2 separate regions of the Homo sapiens genome follow, and region 2 is linked to region 1. A link means that fine-mapping ties the variant in region 1 to the expression of a gene that starts in the linked region. Tissue or cell type: CD8 T cells. Region 1 holds a variant in brackets; the other region holds the start of a gene. All regions are shown on one strand. Distances are between the middles of the regions.

Evidence for each region. PIP is the estimated chance that this variant, and not a neighbour inherited with it, causes the effect.
Region 2: it holds the start of CCDC50, and the variant in region 1 is the best candidate, but not a certain one, in a credible set for the expression of CCDC50 in CD8 T cells (Kasela 2017, PIP 0.73).

The regions. Positions count from the first base shown.
Region 1 is chr3:190,818,679-190,827,202 of GRCh38, forward strand. No RefSeq gene overlaps it. Among named protein-coding and RNA genes, the nearest start is that of GMNC, 40 kb to the right of the region's middle. The variant C/T (reference allele first, on the strand shown) is at 4,471.
Region 2 is chr3:191,324,902-191,331,163 of GRCh38, forward strand. CCDC50 (coiled-coil domain containing 50) reads left to right here and starts at 4,493. Exons shown (of 12, transcript NM_178335.3): 1 at 4,493-4,822. The coding sequence starts at 4,774. It overlaps UTS2B (urotensin 2B), which reads right to left and starts at 5,625. Exons shown (of 9, transcript NM_198152.5): 1 at 5,513-5,625; 2 at 3,730-3,808. RefSeq lists enhancers at 4,060-4,661, 4,662-5,262 and silencers at 4,189-4,268, 4,369-4,648.

The DNA.
Region 1 (8,524 bases):
ATTTTTGTTTTTAGGCTAGACATCTTTTGCAGAGCAGTAGAGACTGAATTAAATTGTTTTTGTGCTTGGAAATGGGCATGGCTCTCCACCTTTTCAGCTTTTGATTACTCAACCTAGTGAGAAGTAGATTTGCTTTTGGATTTTTCAGTTGTTATGGCTACTCTTAGTGCAGTACAGGCTTTAAATTCCTCTAGTGTTACTTTTCATTTAGAATGGAGATGAGTTTTCCAGAGGGTTTTCTTAATATCTATTCTACTCTGAGCTTTGTCTTTTTTTTTTTTTTTGGTCCTGTACTTCAGAGAATGCCTTCATTCATGCTGTTTCCCTCCCTCAATAGTAGACAGCAGTTACTTGTTATCCAACTCTTATTAGCCTGGTTCAGAGGAGGTTTGAAAATATTCTCTGTTTTTAATTTCCCTTAGTTTTAGATAGGCACTGTGTTCCTGGGTCTTATTAGAGGTTCTATCTTCTCAGTGGTTGTACTGCATTATAAATCATAAGTTTGACCTCACTAAGTATTTATGACCTTCTCTGATTAAGAAATAGATTTATTTATTGTGCCGTTATCCAGCTACAACAAGTTTCCACCAATGTCTTAAGCTTAACAGAATATATTATCTTTCTATCAGTGGTGCAAGTATTTTGTTCTATAAGAGATTTAGAGGAGAAGAATCTACGTGGGCTTTGTGCTTTCCATGCAACAGCTGCAATCACCCTTCCCCATATCTGCATCCACCCTTCCCCATATCTGCATCGTATGGAATGATTGATTGCTCATATTCCTTGCCCTACTCCAATCTTTCTTGCTGAGCACCCACCTAGGTCTGTGAACAAGAGCCTGTGAGTCAGTATTAAATTTCTTCACAGGTTTTTTTTGTGTTTTGCTACCTCACACTCAGCCTTTGGCAAATTTATGTTAACGAATTTAGCCAAATTTTTCTCACTATGGCCAGGAAGATTCTGCCTCAGGTGATCTCTGTTGCTGCTTACCTTTTCTTATATTTTTGGTTAGTTGTTTGTCCCAACACATGAACTGTCTGATGCGTTTAAATAAAGTTGGGAATTTGAAAATTGGCCACTTTTTGCTGTTCTTGTGAGTGTAGGAGTAATACCCTTTTAAGCTCTTTACTTCCTTAGCAGAAGCTGGGATTTTTATATAGTTATTTAAAGTGCACATGCAGCATCTATCAACATTGATGATAAACTGGGTCATAAAACAAATCTTACTGAATTTGAAAAGATTGAAATCATATAGAATATGTTCTTTGATCAAAACAGAACTAAGTTATGAAGTAATAGTAACAAAATATCTATAAAAGCACCCAATACTTAGAAATTTAACAACAAAACAACTCACCACCACCAACAATAAAAACACACACAAATAAATGAAATAATAATTTAAACCAAACCATGATAAAAATTTAACACATCGATATTTATGAGGTGCACATAAAGAATGTCAAAGGAAAACTTATAGCATTAAATACTTAGAAAGTAAAAAGTATTAAGGTCATAAAATAAGGTTGCAACTTGGTTATATAAAAACAAGAGCAAACTTACCTGCTTGATCCTGCTGGTAACAAAATAAAATAATTTAAAAAAATAAAATTTAAAAAGAGTAAAAGAACACCAATCAATAAGGAAAAAGGCAGATTTTTTGAAAATATTAATAATATTGATAAATATCTAGAGGGACTGCTCAAGGGGAAAAAAGAAAAAATATTTACTACTAATAAAGAAATGAAAATAAGACATAACTACAGATCTTATAGACGTCGAAAATATAAAAATTTATGAACATGTTTACATGTATAAATTTTACAACTTGGAAACAATGAACAAATTTTCTGAAAAACACAATTTACCCAATCTGACATTATTAGTTTTCTAATTCTGCATTAAAAAATATCCACAAGTGCAGAGGCTTAGAATGAGATTGTCTAACATGTCTGTAGATCACCAGTCCAGGCATACCGCAGCTAGGTTCTCTGCTCATGGTATCACAAGGCGGAAACCAAGGTGTTATCTAGCCGGTGTTCTTATCTGATGCTCAGAGTCCTCTTCCAATTCTTCCAGTTCTGGTAGAATTGAGGATATTAGGTCCTTGAGGTCATTCGGTACTTCCTGAATCTCTACAACATGAAAATTTTCATTTTTTAAATCAACAGGAGAATCTCTCTTTTCAACAAGAGGCAGAATCCCTGTTTTAAGTGCTCTCTGATTAGGCCAGGTCTATCTGCAAGAATCCTGCTTTTGATGAACTCACAGTCATCTGCTTAATTACATAATCATATGATAAAATGCCATCATATGGGATTTTACAAGTCCTGGTATATTCTCTTTGAAAGTGGACTGGGCATAATAAGGTGTTATGAGTAGAAAAGAAAAAGGCAGCTCACGCTAATAATCCCAGCACTTTGAGAAGCCGAGGCTGGTGGATCAGTTGACGTCAGGAATTCAAGACCGTATGGCCAACATGGGGAAACCCCATCTCTACTAAAATAAATAAACAAATATATATTTTTTAATTTGACTACTCATAACACAAGTTCATCCCACATTGAAGGAGAATATACCAGGCATGCACATTAGAAGGAAGGAAACTTGAAGGCTATCTCAGAATTCTTCCTAGCATACTGACCAATAAAAGAATCAAATCTGAATATTTCTGTATTTATTAAATAAATTAAATGCAGAGTTTTTAAAAATTCTATTAATATATTTTAAGCTTAGCCTTACTGGTTGCTATACAAAATATTTAGGAAGAATTAAACTAGTCTTACCTAACTCATTCAGAAGATAAGAAAGAGGGAACAAGTCTAGACTTACTTTATGAAGTTGGAGTAATCTAGATCGAAACTCTACTAAGTACAAAACGAGAAAAAAATTAGACCAATCCTCCTCATGAACATAGACATAAAATTAATCAACAAATTATTAGCAGGTCAAATTCAACAATATCTGAAAGAGACAATACACAATGATCAAGTAGATTTTATCCGAGCAATACAAGTTTGACTTAACATTAAAAATTAGCCAATATAACACAACTTAATGAGCAGTAGAAAGTAACATAATTATCTCATGATGTGCAGAAAAATATTTCAACAAAATTCACATCTTTTCATGGCAGAAATGACCAAGAAATAAGAAATAGAAAGCAGTTTCCTCAATCTAATAAACAGCATCATAACAAAATGAAACTCACATCGTGCATGCATCATATGTAATGGTGAAATGTAGAAATGTTCCCCACTAAATTCAAGTAAAAGAAAAGGATGTCTTTTAAATAGAAGATGTCACAACCTCTGTTTAACTTTTTTCTAGGACTCCTAGGCAGTACAATGAGTCAATAAAAATAAATAAAAGTCATAAATAAATCAAAGTGAGATTTAGTTTAAACAAAACCACCCCAAGTCCTGTTATAGTCAAACTATCAAAAATTAGACAAAGAGTATTCTGAAAGCAGCAAGAGAATGAAGCAAATTTCATATAAGGGAATTCCAATATGACTAACAGCTGAATTCTCAGCAGAAATCTTACAAGCTAGGTGAAAGGGAGATAACACTCAAAATTCTGAAGGAAAAAACTCCCAACAAATAATACTGTACTTGGCAAAACTGTTCTTCAGCAATAAAAGAGAGAAAAAGTTCCAAGACAAAGATGTAGAGAGTATCAACAGCAGGCCTTTTTATAAGAAATGCTGAGGGGAGTTATTCAAGCTGAAAGAAAAGGACACTACAGGTATACCCACAAAATATTGTGGGTTCAGTTTCAGACCACCACAATAAAAGCAAATATTGTAATAAAGTGAGTCACACTGTTCTTTTTTTTTGTTTTTTCAGTGCATATAACAATACTTTTACACTATACTGTAGTCTATTAAGTGTGCAACAGCATTATGTCTATAAGAATAATATGCATATCTTAATTTAAACATAGTTGATCATTTGAGCCCAGGAGTTCTGGGCTGTATTATGCTATGCTGGTTGGGTGTCCACACTAAGTTTAGCATCAATATGGTGATTTCACAAAGCAGAGGACCACCAGGTTGCTTAAGGATGGTTGAGCCAACCCAGGTCAGAAATGCAACAGGATAAAACTTTCATGCTGATTAATATTAGGTCCAGAGATAGCCAGCCCAGAGATTCTGGACAGGCCATCTGATATGGTACTAAGCAGAATTCCTGCTGGAGTCTTTGGGCTGGCTGGCCTGGAGCCTGGGTTAGCAAGTAGGTGAGCCTGAAGCCTGGTTACACTTGGGTGAATGTGTTGATTTGGTCTGCTAGGGTAGGCCTGGAGTCTGTATTCCTAGATCCTCCAGAGCTTCCCTGGTTCTGGGGCAAGACTGAAGCCTGCTGCCACTACAGTTGGTCTAATTATGATCTGAACCTGAACCCCAAGGTTGCTAAGTTGAGTTGGTGAAGGGGCAATCCTGGAAATGCTATGGCAGGTCTAGCATTGTAG[C/T]GGGTCCACTAATAGCCTGTGAGTAGCCACTGCACTCTAGCTTGAGCACCACAGTGAAACCCCATCTCTTAAAAAAAAAGAGAAGGAACTATAAAGGATCATAAAGGTCTACAACTGCCTATTGAAAAACATAGGGAATAGGGGGCACCGATCCACTGCACAGTCAAAAATCTATATTTAACTTTTGGCATCCCAAAAACTTAACTACTGATAGCCTATAGCCTACTGTTGATGAGGCACCTTACCAATAGTGTAAACAGTTGATCAGCATGTATTTTATGTGCTATATGTATTATATATTGTATTCTTACAATAAAGTAAGCTATAGAAAAGAAAATATTATTAAGAAAATCATAAGGAGGGTAAAATATATTTACTATTCATTAAGAGGAAGTGTGTCATCATGGAGGTATTTTCCTCTTGTCTTCATGTTGAGTAGGCTGAGGAGGAGAAGGCAAAAAAGAGGTTAATCTTCCTGTCTCAGGGGTGGCAGAGGCAGAAGAGATGGATGAGGTGGAATGAAAGGCAGGCACACTTGGTGTAATATTTATTTTTTAAAGATCCATGTATAAGTGGATCCCCACAGTTCAAACCCATGTTGTTTGAGGGTCAACTGTATTATAAATAATTATATGCTAACAAATTGAATAACATAAAAGAAATGGATAAATCCCCAGATAAATGCAACCTGCCAAGATAAAATCACAAAGAGGTAGACAATCTGAACAGGCCAATAATAAGTAAGGAGATTGAATCAGTAATCAATAGTCTTCAATCAAAGAAAAGCCCAGTACCTGATTGCTTCACTTCTGAATTCCCGCCCCCACCAACTTAAAGAATAATGAATAATGAATACCGATTCTTCTCAAACTCAAAATGGAAGTGCAGAGGAAACTTCTGAACTCATTTTACAAGGCTAGCGTTATCCTGATAGGAGAACCAGTAAAGGACATGACAAAAAAAGAAAACTATTAAATAGTAGACAGTATGCCTAATTAGAGGAGCAAGACTCCTCAAGAAAATATTAGGAAACCAAATTCAACACTGTCCTTCGAACAGAAAAAGAAAAAATATACTTCTCCTTTGTTGCCTTTTTCCATGTTGCTCTCCCCTTTTCTTTATGGTTTTGTGACAACAAGTTATGTCTTAAGTTTCTGTGCATGTGGAATAAAAAGACGCTCACCTAGGATTTAGGAGACCTGTATTCTCTCATCCCCACTTCCTTTCTGCGTAATGATGGTCTTCCCTTTTTTAAAGAGGGAATCTGACCAGACAGAGATATATTCTCACATAATCCTTTTCTACTGTAATTGGTTTCCAATTCAGGCTGCGTTGTTAGTATATCAGGGTTTAGCATACAGGATGTCACCCACATACTGTGGGGTCATATATACTGCTTGAATATATATAAAATAAGCAAAAACAAAAATGAAATCAAATGGATGATTTCTGTGATGATAAATGTACCAGTTTAACTTTAGATGCCATCATGTCATTATATATTTCCCTATCATTCATGTGCAGGTAATATTTTTAATCTATGAGTAATCTATGAATCTATGTAATATTTTTAATCTATAGGTGTTTGACATATTCAATAAGCTTGGTAAAGCAAACAGACTTAGAAGTATATAATCCTAAGGCATGTTTCATATTAGCAGTAACAAAAAAACAGGGCCAAATGTGGTGGCTCATGCCTGTTAGTCTAGCATTTTGGGAGGCCGAAGCAGAAGGAGTGCTGTGCCCAGGTGTTCAAGACCAGTCTGGATAACATAGCGAGACTCTGCCTCTACAAAAAACTAAAAAATGTATATAGCAGAATGTGGTGGCACATGCCTGGAGTTTCAACTACTCAGGAAATCCCTTGAGCCAGAGAGGATGAGGCTGTACTGAACTGTGATTGTGCCACTGAAATCCAGCTTTTGTGACAGAGCAAGACCCTGTCAAAAACAAACAGACAAAACAAAACAAAACAGAAAAAGAGGCTTGGAGCGGTAGGCAACATTAAAAGTAAAAATTAGAAAGTGAATCAAATATGAATCAAATATGGCATTACAATAATGAGGGAAAAAATCGAAAAATCAATTTTCCACATCAAAGCAAGCATAGGGTGTAAAAATACTTTCAGTCCCAGCATTCTAAACTTAGCTGCTTCCTGAGGTCTACTACAGCTCTCCCCTTCTGTATTTCCAATCTTCTTTTCCGCATATTCACTTTCCTTTTCTATCAAGTCATGTTTGTGGGTTACTAGAAGAGTCTGGGTGATTCAGCCTATGGAGAGAAGTTAGAGTGCGGATCCTACAGTCAGATTTTCTGAATTCATATATTGAATCCACCCTTTCCTAACTGTGAACTCTTGGGCAATTCACTTGCCTCTCTGGGCCCTACTTTCTCATCTGTAAAAGGGCAGTATAGTAGTGATGACTTCATTGTGTGATTGTGCAATTACATTCATTAATATATGGTAAGCTTTTGGACCCATGACTCACCTATGGTAAAACAGTCAATCCAGAGTTGCTATTACTATTTTAGTTCAATTTGTAACTGCAAAAGATAGATATTTTATGTAGTTTTGTCTACTTCTCTTCCTTCCTTTCCTTTTTTCCCCTTTCCTTTTCTTTTTTCCACTTTCCCTTCCTTTCCTCTCCTCTTTCCTCTTTCTCCTTCCTTCCTTCCATCCTTCCTCCCTTCCTTCCTTCCTTCCTTCCTTCCTTCCTTCCTTCCTTCCTTCTCTTTTCCTTGTTTCTTCGTCACCTCTATCTGTACCACCTTATGGTCTTACGTGTGTCTTAGGAGACCTTCACTTAGTTACCACACGCTTTGGGTACATCCTTCTTGGTCAAGAAGGCCAGGTACCAGTCAGCTTGCTGAGCCTCTCTAGTGTCCAGGCTATGCTCATTGTAAGCTGCTTCAAGCTGCAGAGAGTGCCAGACACAGATTTCTTTAATCCTACCATCAGTAGGTCTAAATTCATTGCAACTAATACAATACTTGTTTCTCTAACCATGCCAACATTTTCTTGACATCGTGTATGACCTCCTGTTATTTCTCAACAAAAGCTGGCAAGCACAACCTGGCTGGGGAAGTAAAACAGCCCAGCGGGCCACAAACTGCTGCTGAGTGCATCCATGCTTAAATGAACAGCACATTCCAAAGAGATCCAGAGAAGCTCAACTCAGAAGAAAAAATAAAAAGAATGCAAAATCCCTTACAGGAGAGAGTAATCCTCTAGGCCACTAGACTTCCATATTTATATTTCCTACATTGAAAACCAGAGTGACGTCTACTAAAAAATCCTTGACCATTCCTATTGTACTACCATGCTTTGAAATGTCATTCTCACCTTTCCCCATCAGAATTTACCCTCACAAAAAGAATCACAAATGTCCTCTTGATGGAACAAGTCTCTAAAATCTTTGAAGTCTCTGCCAGCAACACCAAAAGAGGAAGCAGCCTGCCATATGTGTGAGTAAGTTTAGTTACAGCTCAGCTTGGGCTGAAATCGCACTGGGAAGACTGCTACATAGGATCAGGTTGGTGCAAAATTAATTGCGATTTTTGCAATTAAAAGTAATGTGTGAGGAAAGGTGGAGTTTGTTTAATTTCAAACACTTTAACTTTTCCTTTATGATTGCCGTGAAAACTTGGTATTTTAAACCCATTTTTCCATTCTATATCAAACTTTTCTATGAGCACAAGGTGAGGTTTTTGTTTGCTTCTAAAATATCAGATTTTCCTTGAATTCTTCTCTGACAGAATGGTGCAAGGAATATTAATGGAAAGAAAGTCCATTGACACGAACACGTTAGATGCCCCACAGTCTTTTAAGACATAGTTGTGGAACAGTACTCTTTCTAATCACTATCGTGAGACCGAGGGAGAAAGATGAATAATATCAAGAACTTCCCTGCTCTCAAGGAACTCACACTCTAGTGAAAGTGATAGACATTAAACAAATTGATCACTACATAATGTAGGAATTGCTGTTAAGAAAATGTGCAAGGTTTTGTGGGAGAGAAAAACATGAGAATCTAGTGTAATTTGAGTGTCATAA
Region 2 (6,262 bases), 510 kb after region 1:
TTGCTGGGCGTGGTGGTACACTCTTGTAATCCCAGCTACTTGGGAGGCTGAGGCATGAGAATCGCTTGAACCTGGGAGTTGGAGGTTGCAGTGAACCGAGATTGTGCCACTGCACTCCAGCCTCAGTGACACAGTGAGACTCCATCTCAGGAAAAAAAAATAATATTAATAAGGAAGTCAAGGAAAGAGAGATCAGGTTACCAGAAGGAATGACTCTGTATGTTTATGTATACACTGAAATCATCAAGTGTTCTGTGATGACAGAGAGTGAGAAAAAAAGGTCTCATCTGTAAGGAGTAAGAAGTTACCCAGAAGTGTACAGATAATTGCAATAAGGGTATGTAGTAGGTGACAGAATTTGAGGATATGAGCTTTAAAGAAGTTGAAAATATTTAAAAATAGGAAAGACATATGTTCTAAAAAAGGCAATAAGATAAAAACCATGGCACCTCCAGGTCCAATGGGGTCTAGGGTATGTTAGAAGAAACAGCCTCTAATTTAGAGGGCTCTTGGAAGAGCAATGTCCCCAGGTGACCCCTGAGTTCCAGTAGGAAAAGAAGGGAAAGGGAATAGTTACAAAGGAGATATGGGGAATTTTGTGAGTAACTGATAGTGAATTCCATAGGGTGAGGGGACTTGAGCAACTGAGGAAAGTTGAGAGCATGAATAGGGTTGGGGAACTTACATATGTTATGAGAGTCCAGACAAAAATGCTTCAAGGCCTGGAGTAAAGAGGCCTAAACTGTACGGTTGGATTATTGTCCTAATAGTCTCTACTATGGGCTGAATTATCTGTCCCTAAGATTCACATGTTGAAGCCCTAGCCTCCAGTAATTCAGAGGGACTGCACTGCAGACAGGGTCTTTAAGGAAGACATTTGGGTTAGCCCTAATCCAATCTGCAAACTAAAAAGAGGGATTTCAGAAGAAACCAAATGTTCTGACACCTTGCTCTTGGACTTCTAGCCTCCAGAACTGTGAAAAACATATATAATAATTTCTGTTATTTAAGCCATTCAGTCTGTGGTATTTTGTTATGGCAACCTTAGAATATTCATACAGTCTTCTTGGTGAAAGTGAATAACAGTTCTAATTGCATCCTCATTTTTGGAACTGTTCTCTTAGGTATATTATGCTGATGAGCTAGGAAGCACTGGGGGCCAAGGAGACAGATAATTCTTTCCAGAAGTATAGTTCTGTGGGTCCCCTTTCCTGTTTTGCCAAGGTCCAGTGTAATTTATTCATTTGCCTATATTGTTTTTTTAACTTACTTTTAATTTGTGATTCTTACTGATAATAAAATTGGATAACTATATTTATTTATTTATGCAACAAATATTTATTGAGTGCCTATTATGTGCCAAGCACTTTTCTAGATACGCGGATATTAGGGAATCAAACAGATAAACCCCTGCCCTCACAGAGCTTACCTTCTAGTAAGGTAAGCTCTAACTGGGGGATGCTTTTGTGGAATTTGGTAGTTTTCAAACTGGAGTTTTCATTTCTTATGACCAAAGTCTCCCTACTCCAATCCAAGCATTTTATTGTTACCAAATTCACTTTATAAAAGTAGAAAATGTATCATGTAATATCCACCTAGAAAAAAAAATCAATTGATGCCTCCATATTGCCTTATAAATAAAATCCTTATTTCTCTCTATGGCATTCAAGTTGTGATTTGATGCTGAATTACTTGTTTGGCATCTGCCCCAAATTAGGGATCTGTATCCATCCTGAGAAGCCTTATGCTTTCTCTTTTATTGCAAAATGGACATTTCAGGACACCAAAAGATGTAAACTTGTTACAGAAATTCACCATATGTTCATTCCCTATAAATACTCAAAAGATACTAGCTCTTCCCCGTGTTACTGTCAGTCCTTTGCTAGAAGTTGCCTACTCTGTAATGCTGAGCTCTAATTGTTTGCTCAGCTTGGGGACCTATACAGAACAGGTGTGGAGTAGGAGAAGGAAAGCCCAACTATGGGGTGGATTTCCAGGTCATCTGCTCTAGTACCTGAAAAGGGCTCCTGGTTTTCATTACTTTTTCTGCTGAAAGCAGCCGATTCTCTAAACAATAGTTGTGGCTATTATATATGTTTCCATTTCTTCTCTAGGCCAGAAATGTGGATATTTTTATGCATATCTTACTGTAAGCACATCATATTTTAAGCATATCTTACTTTTGGCATATCTTACTGTAACAGTCACAGTCTAGGTAGGAAACAGGAGGTGCACTGTAAGTGATTTTACTGAAAAGAATGTAATGAAGAGACAATTTCAGAGGTATTAACTGGGTTAAGAGAACTAGGGGAGGCCGGGCGTGGTGGCTCGTGCCTGTAATCCCAGCACTTTGGGAGGCCGAGGTGGGCGGATCACTTGAGGCCAGGAGTTCCAGACCAGCCTGGCCAACATGCCAAAACCCTGCCTCTACTAAAAATACAAAAGATTAGCCAGGCGTTGTGGTGCACACCTGTAATCCCAGCTACTCGGGAGGCTGAGGCACGAGAATCACTGGAACCTGGGAGGCAGAAGTTGCAGTGAGCCAAAAGGAACTAGGGGAAGCCATCACACTCTAGGCCTGAAGGGACACTGGAAACAAATTGTTTTATTAGAGACCCATGAGAGCTGAGGCCATGGAAAAGAGGCCTCTACACAGGCCCTGTAGTCATAGAGGGACAGGACTGTGGCCAAAATTTTGGGTTAAAGGAAAGAAGAATACTCTGATATTTCTCTCCTCCCTTCTTTTGATTTTCTGCCAGTGCTTCCCATTGGTCAATCACAACAGGAAGCCACAGGTCAAAGGGGCCTAGTGATTTATCTGTAGGCATCCAAAGGCACGGCTTGGTAGAGAAGTAGAAACGATAGATTTGGGGAGGGAAACAGAAAATACTGCTGTTATAAATATTCTCTAGACCACAGGAAGTTAAAAAAAATTACTAGATTACAGGACAATTAAAAAATTCCCATAAATCTACCTTTCTAATACCACTTCCTTCTTATTCCCACATTTAACCTGCTGAGTGTTATCTCTGCCTAGCACTGGGGTGGGTAAACTTTTCCTGTAAAGCATATTTTAGACTTTGAGGCTTAAGAGGCAAGGTCGAAAATATTATGTCCTATTTATGTAGTGATTTGAAATGTAATTATTTGAACATATAAAAAACAGTCATTCAAATTCAGTGGCGTAGATTTGGCCTGTGGGCTATACTTTGCTACCCTCTGGCCTTGAAAGTCTTCTAAATTTTTGCTAGCCTAAAATCCACCTACTTTTCAATGTCAAGTTCAAATAAAACCTCCCCTACGTGGCCTCTCATACTGGGACTCTGAGCTGTGAGTGACAGAAAATCAACTATTACTAGCTTAAGCAAAACTGAGGATAAGTTGAGAGTTTGCGGGTTGTAGATCCCAGAATCCAGGAGTTGCTGAAATGCCAGCTGCTCTGGGGATATCCTGCTTTGCTACTGTGGTAACATCAGAACATGCCCTCTTCATCTCCCTTTCTCTTCTCTTTGCTTCTGTCTTCAGTTTGGCCTCATCATCTCCTAGAGGCAGATCTTTTCCACAAGAAACAGAATATGTAACTCTTTATGTACCCAGGAAAGTATTCTGTTTGACCTGTCTTGGTCACCCAGCCACCCTTCGATGAACCCATGTCGGTGGAGGAAGGGGGAAGAGTGATGGGGTAGTCTCGAGGTTCAGACATGGCACACGTTTGGGAGAGAAGCTCACCTCTGAGGAGTGGGGAAAGAGGCAGTTTCCCAAAAGGAGGATGCATTCTGTTGCCAGGAGATGAAACAGGAGAGGTTGTCTATTTTAGAGAGATAGAAATGTCACAATTACAATCCAATGTGTGCAGCGCTATAACAGAGATAAGTCTGACGCCTCGTTATCACCCACAGTACCTAACATCACACTTGGTAGACACATTCATGCGATTTTGATGAATGAATGACTCAGTTCTCCCAGCTGATTGTGTACACACTCTACTCCAAACTGGCCCAGAATTTTATCAGCTGCTCTTCATTCTGTACGTTGTATTTGGGGTTTTTATGGCCATCTACCATCTCTCCTCTAATTCCGGGTGCAAAAAGAGTGTATGAGAGAGAGGCAAGCATGCAGTAAACATCCTGTGTTAATCTCAATCCCAGAACCAGACCACAGAATGCTGACTACACCGCTCACGGGAAAGACTATGTTTTAGGTGACCCGTGTGGCCTTTTTGTTGAGGCCTTTAGGATACAAGGCCCCCACCTAAAGACGCGACCCTCCCGTAGGAGGGGGGCAGGGCCCGGGGGCGGGAGCACAGCGGGGCCCCAGCCTCAGGCGGCGCGTCACTGAGCACAAAGGAGACAACAGCGAGGCGGCAGCGGGCGCTGATCTTCGCTCGCCAGCCACTCGCAATTGCGGTTACAGACCTGCAGCTCCCCCTCCCCCAGCCGGCCCGCCCGCCTTTCTGTCTCCTCTCTCCCTCCGTACTGGACGGCCCCGGTCCATTTCCGGGCTCCGGATATTTGGTATCGATTGGGGCCGGGGACGCGGAGCAGGTGGCCGCGGCGGGGCAGCTGGGCCGCCAGCTTGGTGCCTCGGGGACCGTCTCCCGCTGCTTTGGTCACCAGCCCCTGCCCGCCCGACCCGCTCCGTTCTCCGGCCTGCGAGCCCTGCCGGCCGGACTTTGCGCCGCGTCCGGCGCTGCTGCTGCGCTCGGGGCCCCGCTCGGCGCCGGCGGTGACCGGGAAGCCCGCGTTAAAGGGGCAACCGGGACCCTGGCCCGGTATGGCTGAAGTCAGCATCGACCAGTCCAAGCTGCCTGGAGTCAAGGAAGGTAAGGGCCCCGGAGGGAGAGCGCGCGGGACCCTCCCCTCTCCCAGCCCGAGGTTCTCTCAGGTCAGGGGCGTTGCCATTTCGGCTCCCGCGGCCCTCGCCCGGTGCCCGCCCTGCGTTGGCCTTGCCCGGACGTGAAAGGAATTGAATTCAGGTTCTAGTGTGGGACGTTGGGCAAGTCTCCGACGTTCCAAGCCCGTTTTTTCTCAAGGGGGTGGTTGGGGGGGGGGGGGGCTAGCAGCAGCCCCAGCAAGTAGGTGGCTGTGCCCGTGTTCTCGTGCATCGCAAAGCCTCAGTGGACGCTGAGAGCCGGGTGAATCTGACTTACTCCGCTTCTAAAAAATCGAGGCCCAGCCTGGCTGGCTTGAAGGCTGGGAAGTGGAGAGGGGTTGACATTCAGTTCCGTGTGGAGCCTTTGTTTTGAAACATGACTCTTTCCCTCCTTCTCTCCCTACTTTTCCTAGGCCGGCGTCTGGCTGGCTGACTTTCCCACCTTCCTCAAGGTTTAAAAGTTTAGTCTTGGCTGTGTTCTGCGCGGGCGGGAAGCCACTATAAGCATTTTCTTACAAACAAAACACACACACACACACACACACACACACACACAATAGTGAGCGAGGGGAACAGGGGACTGATGGCCTTGTCATTGCTTTTTGTACCAATGTCCAGGAAAGTAGAGATTAGTACTGACCTGGCTTTAGCTGACAGCAAGTAGCCTTTTGACTTCCCTTCTCTTGTTTTTCCACTAGCTGCCTCAGGACCTAGCTTTTTTTTGCTGAGATCTTAGGTGCTGGATCGCCTTATGCCTTGAGTTATCTTTGTTTATTCTTTGGTCCTAGGAAGCATAGACGTTCCAGAGTGCTGACGCAGACCCCTAAGTTCCAAGGGCTTTGCAAAATCGGCTTCTGTTGTGAATGTCATTTGTATCGATTGAATACTGTAGCCTGAGGCGTCTTGGAGATGTGGAATTGAAAATAGTTTTTGCTTTCTTGGAACCGCTTGTTTTATTGCCAACTTAATTTGACTCCGTTGGTCTTGTGTGTGCTCAGGCCAGCCCAAAAATCTCAGGAAAATGAGGGACTGCTTGATTGCTTTCTCAGAGTTTCAAGCACTAGGAGACTAGTGACTAGTGGTCACTGATTTTATGTAGAATTTCTGATGGGCCTAGTTCTGTCTTACTGTTCCGGAAGGGTGTTAAAGCTTAGGCGTGAGATTTTAGCGTTAATACTTTTCTACCTTTCCGTCCCTGGTATGGCTTTGATGAAGACTTAGGGCTTTCACCTGTAGAAAACAGTTTTCACTCTGCTGTCAAGACTAAGGAGGCTGAGCGATAGGAAAGGCGGATCCATACTTTTGAGAGTTCTTATCTTAGAGATTGTCTGGTTATCCTTTACTTTTGGATATGAGGGTTTTTTGTGTGGGTATGTGTTGGGTTTGTCTC